Regions from separate parts of the Homo sapiens genome. Here region 1 is linked to region 2. Evidence: fine-mapped QTL for protein levels in blood plasma. A gene starts in region 2. The other region holds a variant in brackets. All regions are shown on one strand. Distances are between the middles of the regions. Region 1 overlaps FRZB (frizzled related protein). Region 2 holds the start of FRZB (frizzled related protein).

Evidence for each region. PIP is the chance, under the fine-mapping model, that this variant and not a neighbour inherited with it causes the effect. Protein levels are from antibody-based Olink assays in UK Biobank. Linkage for the fine-mapping came from a reference panel and not from the study's own genotypes, which makes the PIPs less certain.
Region 1: its variant is fine-mapped to the plasma level of the FRZB protein (UK Biobank, PIP above 0.99). The variant lies in the coding sequence of FRZB. If it changes the protein, the assay may bind it differently, which can mimic a change of level.

The regions. Positions count from the first base shown.
Region 1 is chr2:182,828,725-182,837,739 of GRCh38, forward strand. It overlaps FRZB (frizzled related protein), which reads right to left. Exons shown (of 6, transcript NM_001463.4): 6 at 4,551-6,241. The coding sequence ends at 6,125. Among named protein-coding and RNA genes, the nearest start is that of FRZB, 33 kb to the right of the region's middle. The variant A/G (reference allele first, on the strand shown) is at 6,231.
Region 2 is chr2:182,862,908-182,872,812 of GRCh38, forward strand. It overlaps FRZB (frizzled related protein), which reads right to left and starts at 3,730. Exons shown (of 6, transcript NM_001463.4): 1 at 3,168-3,730. The coding sequence starts at 3,645. RefSeq lists an enhancer at 2,893-3,861.

The sequences.
Region 1 (9,015 bases), 35 kb before region 2:
TAAACAGCCAATGAGTTGCGAAGTGAGCATTTGAATCCAAGTGCCCTAACTCCAAAGCTCTACTCAAGGTATGGTGAGGGAGCCATTTTGAATGATTGAATGTCTCCAAATGTTGTCCCTAAGGAAGAAGGAGTGTGGGCAGCTGTGGTTCCAGGCATCGTGTAGGCAAGAAAACCTCAGGACAAGACTGCCTGAGCTGATGACCTGAAAGGAATCGAAATGAGCATCATGGATATTGATCAATGGATTTAAAGAATATCAGATATTTGCATCATGCCTGATCTTCTAGCAATTCTGAAAATATTCCTGTAGCTATGTGTTTGATTTAATTAGCCAAGCAATATGAGGAAAAGCAGAATAGGCAAGAATGGCCAGGAGGGAAAGAGATGAATGTGAGCAGACAGGACAATTCAGTATTTGTGGGTATAATATTTTCTGAGCATCACGGGTTTTTTTTTTTCTGTTTTTGGTTTGTTTGTTTTGTTTGTTTTTCTTATCTTAGGCCATGTTTTATTAGAAAGAGCTGGCTGGTTAGATCACTTACAAGACACCATATCTTGAATTTTCAAAGAAAGAGAAACCTTCACAGAGCAAGGGACTCATGGCAATTCCAGTAATTAATGAGAAGGAAAGAAAAGGCCAAATTTAAACATGTTTTTTTTTTTTTTTTGGCAGAAGACTTCACCTGGAGTATCATGCATCTTTTAAAGCTTTGATATATTACTTGAGTTTTAGGTCGTAGAGAAAGTTTTCCAATAGGAATTTTGTTCATATTGATCTCTCCTTTTGCCAAGTTGTCCCACAGTTCAACTCAAATTCTTCTTTTCAGTGCTAGGACAGGAATACCATCTCTGGGAAGCCATGATTCCCTCAGAATCACCAAAATAATGTAGAAATAAAGACATTAGAGTGAACTGCATCTGCTTTATTTATTGGATTTACCACCCAGTATAAACAAGAAATCCTTTGTTCCCTGTTTCATTGACTTCTTAACATCTCAGAGCTATCCTATGTTTCAGACATCACCCGACCCACCCTTGCTGAGGCCCCAGACTATCCTAAGTCCAACCCTGCAATCATAACATCAACCTCACATCGTGATGCTAAGTGTGTGGGGAGGGAGGTGGTGGCTGTTTGCAAGAGTGGCCACAGTACCACTGTGTAATGAGTGGGGTCATTCCCCTCCACATCCCTGTGGTGAGTAGAAAATTCTTTCCCGCATTTTCTTTCATTTCTGTGTCAGTTTCCTCAACAGCCCACAAATCCTTTTTTTTTTTTTTGGACAAATTTCCTTGAGCACAACCTTTCCTTCTTCATGGGACAACTCCTCAAGTTCTCAACAACCACCTAAGTAGAAACATGACAAACGTTTGCATTTCATCGGAAGAAAAACATATTTAGTTGTATTAACATGTTGAATCCCTGTCATAGTGAAAATACTTAATGAATGAAAAGCAGGGGGAATTAGGTCAGGTGGAATAGTTTTTCTAGATTATGGAGGACTCTGGTGGTGGGAAACATAGGGGGCATAATCTAAAAAGGAGAAATGGGAGTTCCCAGTGGAAGTAGTCGTTCTCGTTTTATTTGTAATAATTATCAACTTTTAATTTCAACTTTCTTCCAGGTGTTGTTGAATACAATTAACTGTTTACTTTTCTACAAATTCAAGGGAAAACAGAAACCTTGAAAAATGCTTTTCTGAGAGTCACACATTTTTAAACAACTAATGCCCCCAAAATTACTTAATTCACCTGCCTGTCTGTATGGAAATAATTCTACTGAAATTCTGATTTCATAAGGGAGGACACCTGAAGATGTGAAGTGACTGTATCTTGGATTAGAGTTGGGCCTATATTATATAGGCTTTCTAACATAGTTGGTAGACCTCAGTTTAAGAAATAATAGCTATTGTTATATTTATATTATTATTTATTATAATCCAATAATAGCAATAGCTACCACTATATGCCTGACACTATGCTTTTTCTTTTTTTACAGTGCTAGGATGCATTTACCTTTTTATCAGAAATTGCAGTGGTGGAAAACATATAATTTGGGAAATAAGATTATGAGGATCTAAGGCCCAGCTCTGCTACTTACACAACTCTGAAGTTCTAAATACTCATTTAAAAAAAAAAAATCTGTTATATGGGAATAAAACATCTACTTCAACAACTTTCAAGGAATAAGTGAGGTAACATATGCACAAGTGTTTCATATAGAGTTCCAGCCACTGTTAGATGTTATTACCCCAAACAGATAATTATGAAAGGTATGACTATACTGTTTTTGTTAATATTAATACATCTGGGTACCATACTTTTAAATTTTATAGGCTGGATTTCAGTAACACCATATTAGAAGTCTCTGCTTTATTTTTACCATCTTCTTGAATTTTTGTGTATTAAAATATGTTAAAACTCAGTGCTAAATGTCAATCTTGAAATACCTTTAGTCATTTTACTTGTTGAAATGTAACAGCAAATAATTTCTTGCAGAAGGCAATAGGTAGTGCTATTTGCTCACAGTGATTATAACTTTTGTTTTTGCCTTCTTAATGTGTAACACATGTGGAAAGACAGTTTGTCTCACCCCATCCCTGAATGCTGGGTGCAACATATGGCACTGAATCAGATTACATTGTATGTGACACAGTAAAATACATATCCATGAAAAGAGAATCCATGTTTGCTGCTATTTAAGTATTTGCTACTTTATTCAGCATGCATCTGACTTTAATTTGGCTAAGAAAATTAAAATCCTAAAGTTGAATAAAATTTTTTAAAGAAATATAAATTTTATCAATCTCAAGGTTACTGACAAGGATGCATGTATATTAAATTTTTAGTGGCTTTAAAAGTTACTATCTGCAAGAAAACCCTATAGAGAGGCATTAACGAGGTGTCTTTGTACTATGGCAACTAGAGTAGAAATGGTTTTGCAGTCTCCTGAGAAACGTGACCATCATGATAAATCACGCCATCCTCCCAAAAGAGGTCTGCACAGTTTATTAATGAAGATATTGTAGCTATCAAACTGAAAAACCAAATGTACTTTATTCATGGGCTTTATACCATTAGAAATGTTTAAACAGCTGACAGAAGCCTCATATAGGTGAGCAAAATCAAACATTGCCACTATAGATGGTAGTGGTAAAACAGTAGGTTGTAAAATGGCACCGAATGGAAGGTGGTTTAAAAAAAAAAAAAACTGCTGAATCTAAGAATCTGGCCGTGTTTTGTTTATATTAAGCATAAAGTGTGTCAAATTCCTACACAGAAACTGATCATACCCCCTTTACCCAACCCCCACCCCCCAAAAAAAACTGCAGAAGCTGGAAACATCTGCAGCTTTTATACATCAAAAGAGTTCCTTACTTAACATTGCTTACTGTGCATTGAGAGAGTTGAGGTTTGTGGATTTGAGATAACGGTTCCTTTAAACCTCTCCTGTAGTCAATTCTTGTCCTTCTTTACAGAGTTAACGTGAGAAAGCCTGAGGAAAACAGGCTGAGGCACCAGCACTACTTTCCACCCCTCTGTCCTCAGGCTCAAGTTGAGGCTTACATACCAGGAAGAGAGATTCTCAGGGGCAGTCCATCCACGGTGGCGCTTCATTACTCCCCAGTGACACCCAACTCACCTTTTAAGGGTAGGACATCAGCACCTCAAAAGAGATGTCCTTGCCATCTGAGAATATAGCAACAATGGGCAGATGGCAAGCCCTTTGGAAGTGGTCTTTTGGAAGCTCAAAAGACTATGCAGTCCTATAGGCAAAGGTGGGAATGTTTTCTTCTGGGGCTGGGGAAATTGTTGGCTTTGGAGAGTCAATCAGAAGGCAGGAATGTTCCCTTACTCTGTCACCTTTAAATATAGGGAGATAAATCTCCAAGTAAAGGGTTTATTTGGGAATATAAGAATTGGAATTGTAATTCTGGGCACACAAACCAGTGTAGCCTCTAGTTGTGTTCAAAGAACAAAGAGAAAGGCTGGGGTTTTATTGGGGAAGAGAGGAAGGTGATCTAAATGGTTTTGAATGAAAGTTCACTGGAGCCAGGCGCGTCTTGTAGGATCTAGCAAGTTCTGATTGGTGAGTGGCAGCAGCTAGGTAACTTTATCTTAAGGTTAGAGTTAGGTCTTCGTGATTTTTCTGTTGAACTGCAAAAATGGTTCCTGGAACAGGGACCTGGGTGCCTTTCCCCATGGCCTCCCGACTCCATTTTAGTTGGGTATGATATGAGTGACTCCAATTTGTAGAATGAACTTTCACACTTTTGTTGTTGTTACAGAGACAGGGTCATGCTCTATCGCCTACGCTGGAGTACAGTGGCCGCAATCATAGCTTACTGCAGCTTCAACCTCATGGGCTCTAGCCGTCTTCCTTCCTCAGCCTCCCAAGTAGTGGGGATTACAGGTGCACTCACCACACCCAGCTCACACTTTTAAAATAGAACATTTAGATAGATGATTATTTACCATTTTAGGAAACTTTTGTTCAGGAATGAATTTCATCCTTGCTTGATTATCCTTGTAGAAGGAAACATAGCACGATTTTTGCTTCATAAGCATTTTATTTTCAGCACGCCACAGCTTAGAAATTTGGTTCTACTAATAGCACACATGTAAATGGCAGAGAATGAAACTTTCAAGTAATTGGCACAGGCTCTAAGGAACTCTGCCAGAGGAAGGAAGTACAGATGCTCCGCCATTTACGATGGGGTTACATCTGGATAAACCCATTCGAAACTGAAAATATCGTAAGTTGAAATGCATTGGGTTACATCCTGATAAACCCATTGTAAGTCAACAAATTGTTAAATTGAAGCATTGTAAATTGAATCATTGTAAGCTAGGGACCATCTATAAAAGCATCATTTGTTCACCACAGCCCCTGGGATCTCACCACAGCTTGGGTAATGAGAAATGTGCAATTGGTTCAAAAGTCGAAATAACCTCTCTCCTGACAACCATAATTCATTTTACTAGACATTTTTCGCTGAGCATTAAGCAGCACAAATCCAAATGATAAAGTGCAGGCCAGTTTGCAGGCCTGTATTTTAATCCACCTTGGGTGTGAGTGCAAGGACACACATGTACACAAATACAGACACACACACAACAGAAAAAACAAAAACAAAAAAACCTGCATATTTTATCACTCTGTAATCTACAGCATTTTTATGGAGCCATGTACTTTTAAAAACTAACCCTGGTGCACGTGCATACATAATCTTTTCCTGGTCAATACGGCAATTCTGATTTATTTTAAAAGAAGAGAAAAAAAAAGACTTTCACCAATGGGTTTATTTAAAAGGAAGCAAATTAAACAAAACTATGGTGATAACAGCAGATGTCTAGTTATAATTCATTTCTCTAATGCTGATTAATATATTCATGAACAAATCAAATGTATTGCCAAAAGAAGAATGCTACCATTAACACCCCAGCGGCTACTGGTTTCAGTTGTGCTTCTCAATCAGGCAAAATGTTCTTTCTTAAGCTCCTATTTATTTTACTTCCTGACAGTCTCAAAAATAATTCATCTTGGGTGTTGTTTCCTCATAAACACTTCCTGGTGCTTGATTGCTTTGCCTATGTGACATTTGACTTCAAACTGCCATTTTACCTTTATAAACATTTGGAACTTTCTAAGCATGAGGAGAATGCCCAAAAGGCATACAAAAATAAGGCTGTAATTAGATCGGCAGAGTATGTTTTAAGGCATATCTAGCTTTCTGTGAATACCAGAAACCTCTCTTTTCATCCAATATTGCATTCCCAATTGGGGTGCAGAAAGTAAATTAACATCTGGAGACTCCAGCAAAGAGGCTCTGGTAACAGCATGTTTAATTTATTATTATTGCAAAAGAACAGTTTTTCTCATGATTAGTGAAATAGAAAACTCACAATATACTTAAGAGTCTGCCCCCAAACCATTACAAAGGGGTTGAGAGAAGAGAGAAGCAGAAACCAAAAGAGAAACAGAAGTAATAATCAGTTATCACATGATTTTTATAGTAAACAATAGAATATGATGTGCAATAGTGCAATTTTCCTTTGCTAGTCCAGCAATGCAAGTAAGTCTTAATAGGAAGTCCACTGTGTTACTTTTTGTATTTCGGGATTTAGTTGCGTGCTTGCCGGGGGTTCGAGTTCCTGCCAGACTTCTGACTCTGAGTGGAATCACTATTGCTAGAATCACTTTTACTGAGTCCAAGATGACGAAGCTTC[A/G]TATCCCAGCGCTGTGAAATTTAAAATAGAAAATAGTCACAAGCACATATCACCAGGGTCATTATTTCCATGATTCTAACAACTGGGTCAGACTGCAAGTTCAGATCTCTGAAGCATTTTGCTACTTTTCCAAAAGTATCAATCTATTTCCCAGGGTAACAAGAAAACTGATGCAATATGAACATTATTCTCTGACTTTAACAAGCGCAACATCTATAATGTATTTAGTAATGCTTTCTTATCAAACCTTAAACTTAAAATGTCCATGTCTATAAATGATGACAGAAATATCTCCCTATATCTCTGGGTATTTCCTGAGGTAACATACAGGAGGCTAGTGCTTCACAGATACTCAACAAATGGAAGATTTACACACAGAATTTGAAGGGAAGGCTATTTTTCAACATCCTCTCTTAATACACATAAGAACATAGCCTTTTAAAGTCTATGTGATTTGAGCAGTGAAAAAAAAATGGAAATTTTTTTGAGGGATGGGGGGGTCTCAAAAATATTTTTCTAAGTAATATCCACTAAGTACAATGAATAAAACAGACAAGGTCCTGCCCTCGTTCTAAGTGTTACAAAGCAGGTATTAGCAATGTTTTTAATAAACACAATCAAGTTTAGTAATATTTCATATTAACAATGTCAATAATATTTTCATGTAATTTAAGTTAAATGGAAGTTATATTACATGAGGATAGGTAGGGAATACGAACTACAGCTGTACTTCCCAAACTTCAAACACGGATATCATATGGGGAATTTGTTAAAATTGCAAATTCTCATTTAGCAGGTCTGAGACAGGGCCGAAGATTTTCATTACTAACAAGCTCCCAGGTGATACCTATGTTGCTGATCCAGGGACCACACTTTAAAGAGCAAGCACCATCAGATCCTTGGGTCAGATGGCCCAAGTTCAAATTCTAACTCCACCACTTACTGTGTGAAGTTTCTTGAACTTACTAGACCTCATTTTCATCATGTATATGTTGGAACTGATAATAGAATCTACTTATAAGTAGATACATCTGAAGATTAATAAAAATATAAAGTGCTTAGCACATAGTAAATGTGTTATTGTTTTTCTGTTACTGAAGGTAATTCTTCATTTCAGTATTCTTTACTCCACAATCTTGTCTTCATATTTTAAAAACAGTCTGATTCTCAACTTCCCAAGGAAGTCCAAACATCTTGAATCGTCTGCTATAAGAGACTTAGGTAAACAACCATTTGCATGAAAAAAACATAATAATGTTTCTTATAAAATTATTGATTCATCCACTGAGAGCAAAACTCAGCTAAGAGCAAATCTGATTGAAAAAATAACATCCTCCATAAAACTCTTTTTACACATCTTCAAATTGACTGGAAAACTAAAATAGGAATCTCAATAATTCTGGCCAAAGGAGATTTTCTACCCAAACTCTTTAGCCCTCAATATCTGCATATGAATTTAAAATTGTTCAAATTATTGGTTTCTTTCCTTTAGAATATTTAAATCCAGACTGAGAATATAAATGACTTTACAATAATAACTCTGCAAGTCCCCTGCGGAAAACAATGGGAAATATTGCAGAAAGCAATGGGAAACAGGACAAACAAGCCATGTGTCCTGTCAACAACACAATGATATTGTTTTGGTACCAAAAGAGGAGCAGTAAGCCTTGTTACATGCTTCGCAGCAGGGATATTGAAAGCTTTTCCAACTGGTACAGGAATTTAGGACAAATTCCAGTTCTGCATTAGCAAGCAGAAAACCAAATTAAAGACAGTAAGAGATTCCAACATACTGAACAAGAGCCACTTTTTTCTTTAATAAACACCAAACTAATTGAAGAGAGATGCAGAGAGAATGCCCGCAAGTCTGAACTTGAAATGCATCTCCCTTTTGACAAATCTACTAAAGGGGAGAAGAACTTACTGGAGGGTAGTTTCTCCTTACAAAATAATGCCCTCTACATTTTTGTAGGTCACTTAAACCCAAACGTGTCTGCCGTGTCAAGTGCCAGATGTATAAGATAAACCGCCCAGGGGTGTTTAACTTACCATGTAAATGTTTCCCAAGCCTTCAAACTTGCAGAAGGAAGAGGATGTATTATGTTTGGTACAGTTCCCACTCCCCCCACCCACCCACACATCCTTTGAGATTTTTTTGTCCCCCCATGCATTCCCCCACCCCATTCTTTTCTTTAAAACAGATTTGCTTAGTGCAGTAAGAAGAAACAAAACCTTCTATAATACAGTACTGTACTATGTGATTTTAAAAAATGTATCAATTCCACAATCTAAGAGTTATTTGGCTTAAAAATAAGGCTACATTACTGCTCTAAGGACCTAATTTATTCAGATCTCTTCTATACAGATGAATGTAGCTACACTTTGTACATAGGAATTGCTGTTTATTCATCGGACATCATTGTTTATTTTCCTTCCCATCATTTATTCTCCCCTTCTCACAAACTGCAGTTTGTTCAAAGAAGCAATATCCCCAGGTTTAAAAAGACTACATTTTCTAGCCTGTTTTGCAGCTAAGTAAAAACTGCTTGATGAGGCTCTTGGAAATCCCTTTTACCTCCTCTTTTTCCTGCCTGAAATGTACATGTGATACTAGAGGCAGAGCAGCCATCTTGTGACCTCCAGGTGAACATGAGTATGAAAGCGATGCCTTTAAAAATGGTAGAGTGATAAGCTAGAAGGAGCCTGACAACATGAAACCACCCTACCAGGACTGGACTACAGCTAGACTCCTTGTGAAGAGACATTAGGGCAACTGTAGTTAGAT
Region 2 (9,905 bases):
GACAGGCACGCACCACCATCCCAGGCTAATTTTTGTATTTTTAGTAGAGACAGGGTTTCACCATGTTGGCCAAGCTGGTCTCCAACTCCTGACCTCAAGTGATCCACCCGCCTCGGCCTTCCAAAGTGCTGAGATTACAGGAGTGAGCCACTGCACCAGCTTTAATTTCATCTTTACCATGCCCTTGGGATGTAGATAGTTTTGTCCTAATTTTACAGATAAGAAAACTTTGAATTACAGAGGTCATATAATTTTCCTATAACAATAGTTGATGTCGGGGCAGAGTCATTCACACCTGGTCTGCCCCACTCCAAGCCTATCCTCTTTACTCACCACACAATATTAAAGATTTGACTGAATGTCATCACTAACTTGCTGAATGACTCAATTGAGCTGAGTTTTCAGATAATCAGTTGTACATGTAGTCACACAAAGTTATGCAAATATAAAATGTGTAAGATGAATAATAATGGTCAGGATGGAACCCGTTCTTTTCAAAAATATGATTACCCTTAGTATTTTGAAAGCAAAAAGTAGTTTCAAGCATTACTCCATTTCAGTAAGACTGCTTTGTAAAAGGTCCTAAGCTTGTTTGTGGAGTCATGATATACTATGAGAGAACAGATCCCCATGAATGGGTAGGATTTGAAAATCCTCTTGGCATCAGAAGAATGTGAAAGATTGTCCTATTTTATTCAGGGAGACCTCATTTTTATATCTAGTTGGACAGATACTAGTCAAAAGACACAGGGATTCTGTTTATACCCAGTTGAATAAGAAAAAAACCTTGCTTTGTGAACTATCACTTCCCACTGAACCAAAGAGTATATTGGATATTGCATGGTAAATTACACTGGCCACATGTGGTAGTTCCTAAGTAATTCCAGGTGTCTGACAGTTTGACCCAGCATAGGGAATGTAATTTTCAACAAGCTGGCCCTGGAAGCCAGGAGACCCTTCAGGCTACAATCTACACACTTCATTCCCAATTTCCACCTCCCCCCACCTTTGAGCTCCCCTTGCCATCATAGCCTCTGGTTCACACTGAAGCTTATGGAAGGGAGCAGGGATGCCATCACTAACTATGATTCCAACTACCACCTATTTTTCTAGCAAGGATGCTGCCAGTAAAGCAAATACTCTGGCATTTTAAAGAAGCTTAGAAATCAGGTCCCATGAACTGACAAATTGTTTCCATGCATGTCCTATTTGAGTGCTTCAATGAGGCAACTGTTTCCATGTTTGTTCCACAGTGATTGGTAACTCAGGGACACTTAATGAAACTGCTTCCTATCCATATTGACTATGGCTTTTTGAGAGCCATTAACCTTGCCAAACCTCACTCACTCTAGGTCCACCTCTAAGGGAGGTTTAAGAGCAAGTTTTGTGCTTTACGGGGAGGAATGCATTTCAGCCTGAACCACTGCCACCTCATTCCTAGCCCTTGGCCTGAGAGGAGCACCTGCATTTAACTGATTCTAAGTGCCTGGCAAACCAGAGCGGCAACTGCACTGAGCACTTCCAGACTCTGCAGTCTGTGACTTTAGTGAGTACGAAGCCTCAAGCATGCTCTTTTAGCAAAGATTAATAGCAAATACATTTCTGTGATGATTTTGCACAACTAGCTTTTGGTTCTTGATTAAAATCAAGAAGACAATAGGTATATTCAAAAAGTGATAAACTAAGTGAGGTCACCATTAAAAAGTTCTTGAAATTCTTCTGTTTATTTTTTTTCCTTCAGCTATTTTTACAATTACTTCTCCTTCTCTCACTTTGTTAAATGAGTCAACGTGCACAGAAGGTAATTTTTCCAAATCAATTTCCCGATAACTAAGAATTACTACCTGGAAATGGACTGGGGACATGCGCCTAGACTGCGCAAGTTGAAAGAGGAAGGAAAGTTGATGCCCAAGAAATAAACAGATGGAGGCAACCAAGTCAACACATCTAAGAACAGAGTTGTTGGGGGGTGGGGGATGTGGTATGAAAGAGGACCACTCATGAAAAAAAATTGCCTTCTTTATAAAATATATGAAGGGTAAAATTTGAGGTTGGGTTAGTTGGTAGAAGTAATACTGAGTTAGAATTAAATGGACCATAATGAAGTAGGTTTAGTTGGGGTCTTAAAGTTACAAATGTCATAATTAGACTAAACACTAGTGAGAAAACAACTTGTGATTGACTCCATTAAATTTAGAGCTGCAATAAAGTTTTATGGTAGGGAAAGACTGAAATGACTGTGGTTGGTGCACACACGGAAAAGGAGCATGAAATAAGGTATTAAAGACAATTTTTTTTTCAAAACATGAGAGTGGAATAAGGGGTGAGATTTAAAATAACATTACGTGAGTGTATGATAACACGCCTTAAATATAACTCCTTTCATCTGTATGCCACTTATAAAATGACTTGAAGGCATGTGGGCATGTGAAAAGAGCTCAGTAATTTCAGTCTGCCAGCTCTATGGCAAGCCACAGAAGCTAATTAACAGTGCATAGCAATGTTTCACAATTGTTTCATTCTGGAATGGAAGAACAATTTATCTCATTGAAAGGAGGGGGAAATTTAAGGTGAAGGTAATTGCTCAAACTGGATCTTGAGCAAACACATACCCCTAACATCTGTCGGTTAGAGTAAGGTTATTGAAATTATCTTGGCATTTTTAATTAGAAGAAAATGGGGCTTCAGTTTTCTGTTTCCTCCACACAATCTTAACAAGCATCTAAGACACTAAAGATACAGAAACCTGATGACTGAGATTGCCTGAGAATCAGCAAAGAAAACCCAATGATTATAAACACATTTTAAAAGAAAAAGAGCATCACTTTACAAAATGTGGCTACTTGCACATGTAAGGAGTTGAAGTGAAGGATTCCTGTGGAGTAGAAGTGTGATGGGTTTGGAATGCATGGATTGTTTTAGAAAGATCGCCTATTGGAACACAGTGCCAGAGTGCATCAGTTTGGAAGGTGATAAGGTGAGGGTTTTTTTGTTTTTGTTTTTGAAAAAAGAAGAAAGAAGAAGAAGGGTCTTTGATAGAGGAGCAGTTATGGGAGAGATTAAGTGATCCGAAGAGAAAAAAATTAGAGAGTAAAGGCTAGTAACAAGGACTCCAAGAATTGAGGAGGCTGTAGGGTAAGGGAAGGGTGGGCCGTGTCAAAACTCACCAGCTCCGTCCGCAGTAACGATGGCCTCGGGAGAGATGCACACGCCCCTGTCGTACACTGGCAGCTCCTCGCAGGCCAGGTTCTCCGGCCACGAGTGGCGGTACTTGATGAGTATGGGCTCACAGCCCTGCCGGGCCCGCTCGCACACAGACTTACAGGGCTTGATGGGCTCGTGCTGGAAGTCAATGGTGCAGATGGGCGCGTACATGGCACAGAGGAAGAAGAGCAGATCGGGGCTGCAGTGGGTGCCCAGCAGACCTTCGAACTGCTCGATGGCCAGGATGGCGTTGGCCTGAGTGCTGTGGTGCAGGTGGTTGGGCATCTTAGTCATGTTCCAGGGCAGGGACTTGCACAGGGGGATGCGGACGGGCTCACAGGCTGCAGCCCGAGCCCCGGGCACCCGGAGCAGGCAGAGAGCAGCCAGGGCAAGCAGCCCGGCCCGCAGCAGCAGCATCCCTCCCGGGCTGCCGCAGACCATGATCCCGGCAGGATGGGGCAGGGTGCAGCCGCGCAGTGGACGCCAAAAGGCCCGCTCCGCCGTCTCCGCCTCCCCCGCTGCAAGTGGACACAAGGATCTGGGAGCTTCTCCTCCCCCGGCAATCACCGCTTCCTTGGATCAAATTCCCCCAATGGGGTCCCACGAGCTTTACCGAGCTCCAGCCACCGCCCCTGCCGCCCAGGCTGCTCTTTCCCAACGTCTAAGCCTTCGGAAGCAGCAACATCTATTTATTCCTCTCCCTCTGGCAGAAGCATCAGACTTCGCAGATCAGTCAGATAAGAGGGACACGAGAGGAGGCGAGGAAGACATAAAAACAAAAGTAGAATTCAGCTGAGAGCTAGTTGGAGCTCTGGGGTGTCTCCTCCCCTAGATCACGCACACAAAAAGATGCTAAAGAAAGCATTAAATTCCCCAAAGTGAGGAGGACAGAGGGGTTGGGGGGAAGGAGGGAGGAAAAGCTCCTAATGGGAGAGAAGGGTGCAGTAAGAGTTTACAAGTCCTGTGTGGGCTAAGAGCTGCGGCCGCCGCTGCGGCTGCGACCCTGGCTGGCAGGAGGGACGCTCAGGAGGAGCCCCGCAGGGACGTCTGTGCCTCTGCCCGGGCGGCTCTGCACTTTCCTACCTCCCGCCTGAGAGGGAGCTCCGCCCCTGGGGCAGTCTCTGCCCTCCAGTGCCGGCTGCTCTTCCCGAGAATGGAGTGGGCGCCCGGGGAAGAGAAGGCCTGGGAGTCGCAGGCGGTGGGGTGCGAAGCCGTGCGAGTGCGAGACCCCAAGACAGCGCCGAGTCGAGCGCGCCCTCACACTAGGGAACCCGTCTTTGGCCCCAGAAACGAGCCCCTAGCCCCTCACTGAAGAGCCCACCCCAATTCCCTACGGAAAAGTCCCCCTAGTTCCCCACTTGGGAACCCACCCGAGACCCTCCTTCCTGGAGGTATTTCCTTTAAGCAAACTACAGCTTTTCCTCTGCAATCACTGGCTCTGCAGAAAGTCAGACCTGGTGGGGGGAAAGGCTTAAGCAATGTCACTTTGTCCAAGTAGCGGAAAACACAGACCCCTGCGAGCAACGGTGGAGCCATATCAACCCAGAGCTAGTGACTACAGAGGTCTCCATTTTCAATAACTGCGGGGGAGGAGGTGGGGGGAGGATTGCCTTTAAAAAAAAAAAAAAAGAGAGAGAGAAACAAAGAAATGCTGTTCATGACTACAAATAGGCCACCAGAAGCAAGGAAAAGGGGTTTTTTCCTTCTATTCCCGCCCCCCCCACCTAGTGGAATTAGAACTCTTGAGCTTTGCTCCTTAAGGGTTAACGTGGAAACTAACAGCTCTAATACACTTGGACTTTTTTTTTCTGATTTTGCTCACGGATAACATGGCAGATATTATTTGTTATTCTCAGCAACAATTCTGCCCGACACTTAAAAAAAAAGTGTAGGAAAACGACATCACGCAGGTAATAATGATGATTATAACAACAATCAAAACCTTTCCATCCAGATGAGTTCAATCTGGAGGAGAAAATGGAAAACAGATCCCCTCCTGGTCTGCTTCTTCCACTAATGAGCTCCCTCTTCCCCCCACCCCCGCCCCACTCTACCCTTTCAGCTTATATTGTAAATGGAATGACCTGCAGAGGCCTTCACACTATGCCCTCTCAATGGGAAATCACTGAGCAAAAGGATTGCCGAATGTCAGAAAACACAGCCTTCATTGAGAGGAGAAGGAAACAAAACCTGAAACAAAACAGGAAGTCACCTTTGCTCTGCATCACTGAAATATTTCTCTGCTTCAATTTAGCCATCTCTCACCGTCCATAACAAGCAGAGAAATATGTCCCCACTTCAGAGCACATAGTGAGATGCTCATTTTCATTCCCTAGAGTGACTTGACAGCACTTATAAAATGTCAATGCTAACTTGAGTTATGGAATTTTATATCTAAAATGATCATAAACAGCAGTTTGTGACTGCTGTAAATTTTTTTGGAAGGAAGTTTGTTCCACTTATGGTGGCGGGGGCGGGGAACACCAGATGGTAGACAGGGAGTCAGTTAGTATACAAACTTTGCCTGGTCTACAATTATCTAGTGTCATGTAAGAGAACAAATTCAAAAATTGTACAAACGAATTTAAAATGATTTATCAAGTAAAATTTAGAGGAAAAACAACTTTAAAAGACAGTCAACATTAGAACATTTTGGGACTATTTTGTATAAGAAAAATATAGCTGAGATTTTCAATAATTAGAAGAAAAAACATCAGGAGTAGATGTAGTAGATTGTTTGCTAAATACATTTTTCTGTTCATCTTAAGTCTTACAGTGTGAGAAGAAATGTGCCAATAGTTTTAAAGGTTCTACAACTATTTGAAACAAAGTCTGTTTTCCTTCCCCTGCACAAAAGTCAGCTATCTTCTTTGTCTAATAGGTCCCCTTACAACTTTAATCCAAATTTGTTTTTATAAAAGCCCAAAATAAATGTCACTGTCTTGAGGAAGCCCTTTTGAGTACCTTGTCTAGTTGTGTTCATTTTTCTGGTTAGTTACCCTTGAACAGTGTTTGTTTTTACAAATTATTCCTTTATTTATTTATTTATTTATTTTGAGATGGAGTTTTGCTCTTGTTGCCCAGGCTGGAGTGCAGTGGCACTATCTTGGCTCACTGCAACCTCCACCTCCCGGGTTCAAGAGATTCTCCTGCCTCAGCCTCCCTAGTAGACTCACAAGCTCCCCACTTGTGAGTCTCCAAAGTCTGTTATACCTCTCAAAGATATGCCTTCTTGTACCCATAGCTTTGCTCTCATTTATAAGTGAGAACATACAGTATTTCATTTTCCATTCCTGAGTTAAATCACCTAGTATAATGGCCTCCAGCTCCACCCAAACTGCTGCAAAATACATTATTTCATTCTTTCTTCTGGCTGGGTAGTATTCCGTGGTGTATATATACCACATTTTCTTTATCCACTCATCATTTGATGGACATGGACACTTAGTTTAGTTCCATATTTTTGGTTGATGGGCACTTAGTTTGGTTCTATATCTTTGCAATTGTGAATTGTGTTGCAATAAACATATGCATGCAGTTGTCCTTCTGACAAATTGATGTCTTTTCACTTGGGTAGATACCCAGTAATGGGATTGCTGTATCAAACTGTAGGTCCAGTTTCGTTCTTTGAGAAATCTTCACACTGTTTTTCATAAAGGTTGTACTAATTTACATTTCCACCAGCAGTGTATAAGCATTCCCTTTCACCACATCCACACCAACATCTATTGTTTTTGTTTTGCTGAGACGGAATCTTGCTCTGTCTCCAGCCTGGAGTGCAGCGATGTGATCTCAGCTCACTGCAACCTCCACCTCCCAGGTTCAAGTGATTCTGCTGCCTCAGCCTCCCGAGTAGCTGAGACTATAGGCACGCACCACCCTGCCCAGCTAATTTTTGTATTTTTAGTAGAGACAGGGCTCACTATGTTGGCCAGGCTGGTCTCGAACCCCTGACCTCACTCAGGTGATCCAACCACCTTGGCCTCTCAAAGTGCTGGAATTACAGGTGTGAGCCACTGAGCCCAGCCAAGTTTTGCCATATTTCCCAGGCTGGTCTCAAACTCCTGGGCTCAAATGATCTGCCCACCTTGTCTCAAATGATCTGCCCACTTACAGGTGTGAGCCCCCACCAAATTATTAATATACTAATACTCTGCTGGAAACAAAAAATCTATGGACACCAGATTCAAGGACTTCAAAGGGCTCCACACAATGCATATCCAGGTTATGATATGCATTGGTTATGATAGCCAGAGGACACCTGGCTGTCTGAGAGCTGCAGCATAGCGCCCCCTAGCACCTAGTTGGGACTATGGGTTAATTCCAGGCTCAACCACTGCTTAGGAAGTGCACCCAGACCCAGTGATGGCCAGTCAAGCTTCTTAGGATGAGTAATGATACCATGATCATTGACATTTGGTTTAACTTCCTGACAGGTAGGTGTTCCTGTGGCAATGTCAAGAAAAAGATCATGCTAGAGTATATTACTTTGATATAGCCATATTACCAAAATTCAAATTTGGCCAATTTCCCCCTCCCTGCCCCAATTTTGCAATGTCTTATTTTGTCAGTAATTTGAATATTCACATTATTTTTTCATCTGTTTAAATAAACTGTAAACCTATCCTAGGTTTGTGTTAATAAGTCTGCCCACATCTTTCCTATAAGAAAATGTGTTTGCAAAAAATAAGAAAATATTCTTACATTTTCACAAGCAGAGCTGATATGTAAAATAGTTAAAAACTGGTACAGTTGAACACCAGTGAGTCAGAATGGCTGTGGCCAGGCCCATTCTGTACTATCAGGGTATCAAGGAGCAAGGAATTAGTGTTTATTGAGTACTTGCGAGTACTTTATGTGAGGTATGTAAACCACTTTTTAAGCACATAAACTGCTCAAGGTATTAGTTCCAAAGATGAAGAAAATAAGGCTCCATAAGATGAAGTTTCCCAAAGTTCTCACAGATAAATAAGGGCCTGGCAGAGTGGGATTCGAATCCATGCTCTTTTAACAATTCCAATCATCTGTTTCATAGGCAGAAAAGAGCCAGGGAAAGGGAAATATCAGGGATCTCTGTGAGCTTGGGTCTCAGCCTGCACCCTGACCACACCAACTGTCAGATATTGGCTCTATCTTCTTAAGAATGGAAAGATGTCGGCCGGGTGTGCTGGCTCACGCCTGTAATCACATCACTTTGGGAGGGCAAGGCGGGTGGATCACGAGGTCAGGAGTTTGAGACCAGCCTGACCAACACGCTGAAACCCCGTCTCTACTAAAAAAAAAAAAAAAAAAAAAAAAAAAAAAAAAAAAATTAGCCAGGCGTGGTGGCGCATGCCTGTAATCCCAGCTACTTAGGAGGCTGAGGCAAGAGAATTGCTTGAACCTGAGAGGCGGAGGTTGTAGTGAGCAGAGATCGAGCCACTGCACTCCAGCCTGGGTGACAGAGGGACACCCGTCTCAAAAAGAAAAAAAGAATAAAAAGATGTCAAGATGTCAAGCCCAATGAGAAGCTTTGGATTTCAGATGGGGAGACCTCCTTGCTCATAGCCTCTCCCTGAGGTATTCTGCAGACCTAGTAATTCCTTGAGTTCTGCCTTAGGAAGAAGATCTTACCCTTTCCCATCTCCACGCAAACCAATAAAAGCTTCCCAACTGTTCAATGCAGCAACATTAGGGCAATGATTCTCAAACTGAATCATGCAGCGGAATCCCCTGGAAGGCTCCTGAAAACACAGGTTGCTGGGCTTCATCCAGAATTTCTGATAAGGTAGGTCTGAGAATTTGCATTTCAAATAAGTTATCAGGTGATCCTAATACTGCTGTCGAAGAACAACACTTAAAATCACTCTTTTGAACTAGATATTAAGCTCTGATTTACCCCAAGTAAATGCTTTTCATGCTATAAAGATTTCATGATTTTATCTCCTTTTATCTTTTCTCATAGGAAAATTGGAAACAAAATTGTAATAAAGCAACCTAATAGCTAAATGACTCTCTAAAGTTTGTCTAGATAACTCTACCACTCAAAGATCATAATAATAGCCCCAATGAGACTCAGCCTTACAATCAGCTGGCCCTCTGACCTTTATGTACTGTCCTAAGGGTCACAGCGTCACTCTACCTCTGTTGTAGAAGAAGAACGATAGATCCAGCTTCAAAGAAGTTCCAGAGGGAATCTTAATATCTTAGTGGTGGAATGAACCTCAACAATCTAATCCACCCACCTCTTTCACCTCTGCAACCTTCTAGCCCTCCCCTCCATACCTTAATTTGAAAAGAAGACTTGAGATAAAATCACTTACCCAAAATCATGAAGTTAATGGCACGTATGGCAGATGTACCTACCAGCAGCAATAACTCAACTTAAGCATACCCTGAGAATGACCCTATGGTCTAAAAACAATGTGTGTTCAGAGCTGCGAGGTAAGGAATTCAAAAGTGACCAATCCAGAGATTAATTCATTATTTATGAGGAACATATGAACCCCCAGCCCATCCCATGGAATGCAGGCCATACAGGGGATTGAGGCTGTTTGTTTTGGGTTAAATGAAGTTTGTTAGGTAGGGGTTCCTAAGGAGAGGGTGCCAAGTGAAAATTCTGTATAAACAGCGTGATTTCTACAAATGGTAGTGGTTCTGCTGTCCAACCTACTGCCACTGGACTACCCTGTATGTAAGTTCCCTCAGTAAACTCCATGTCT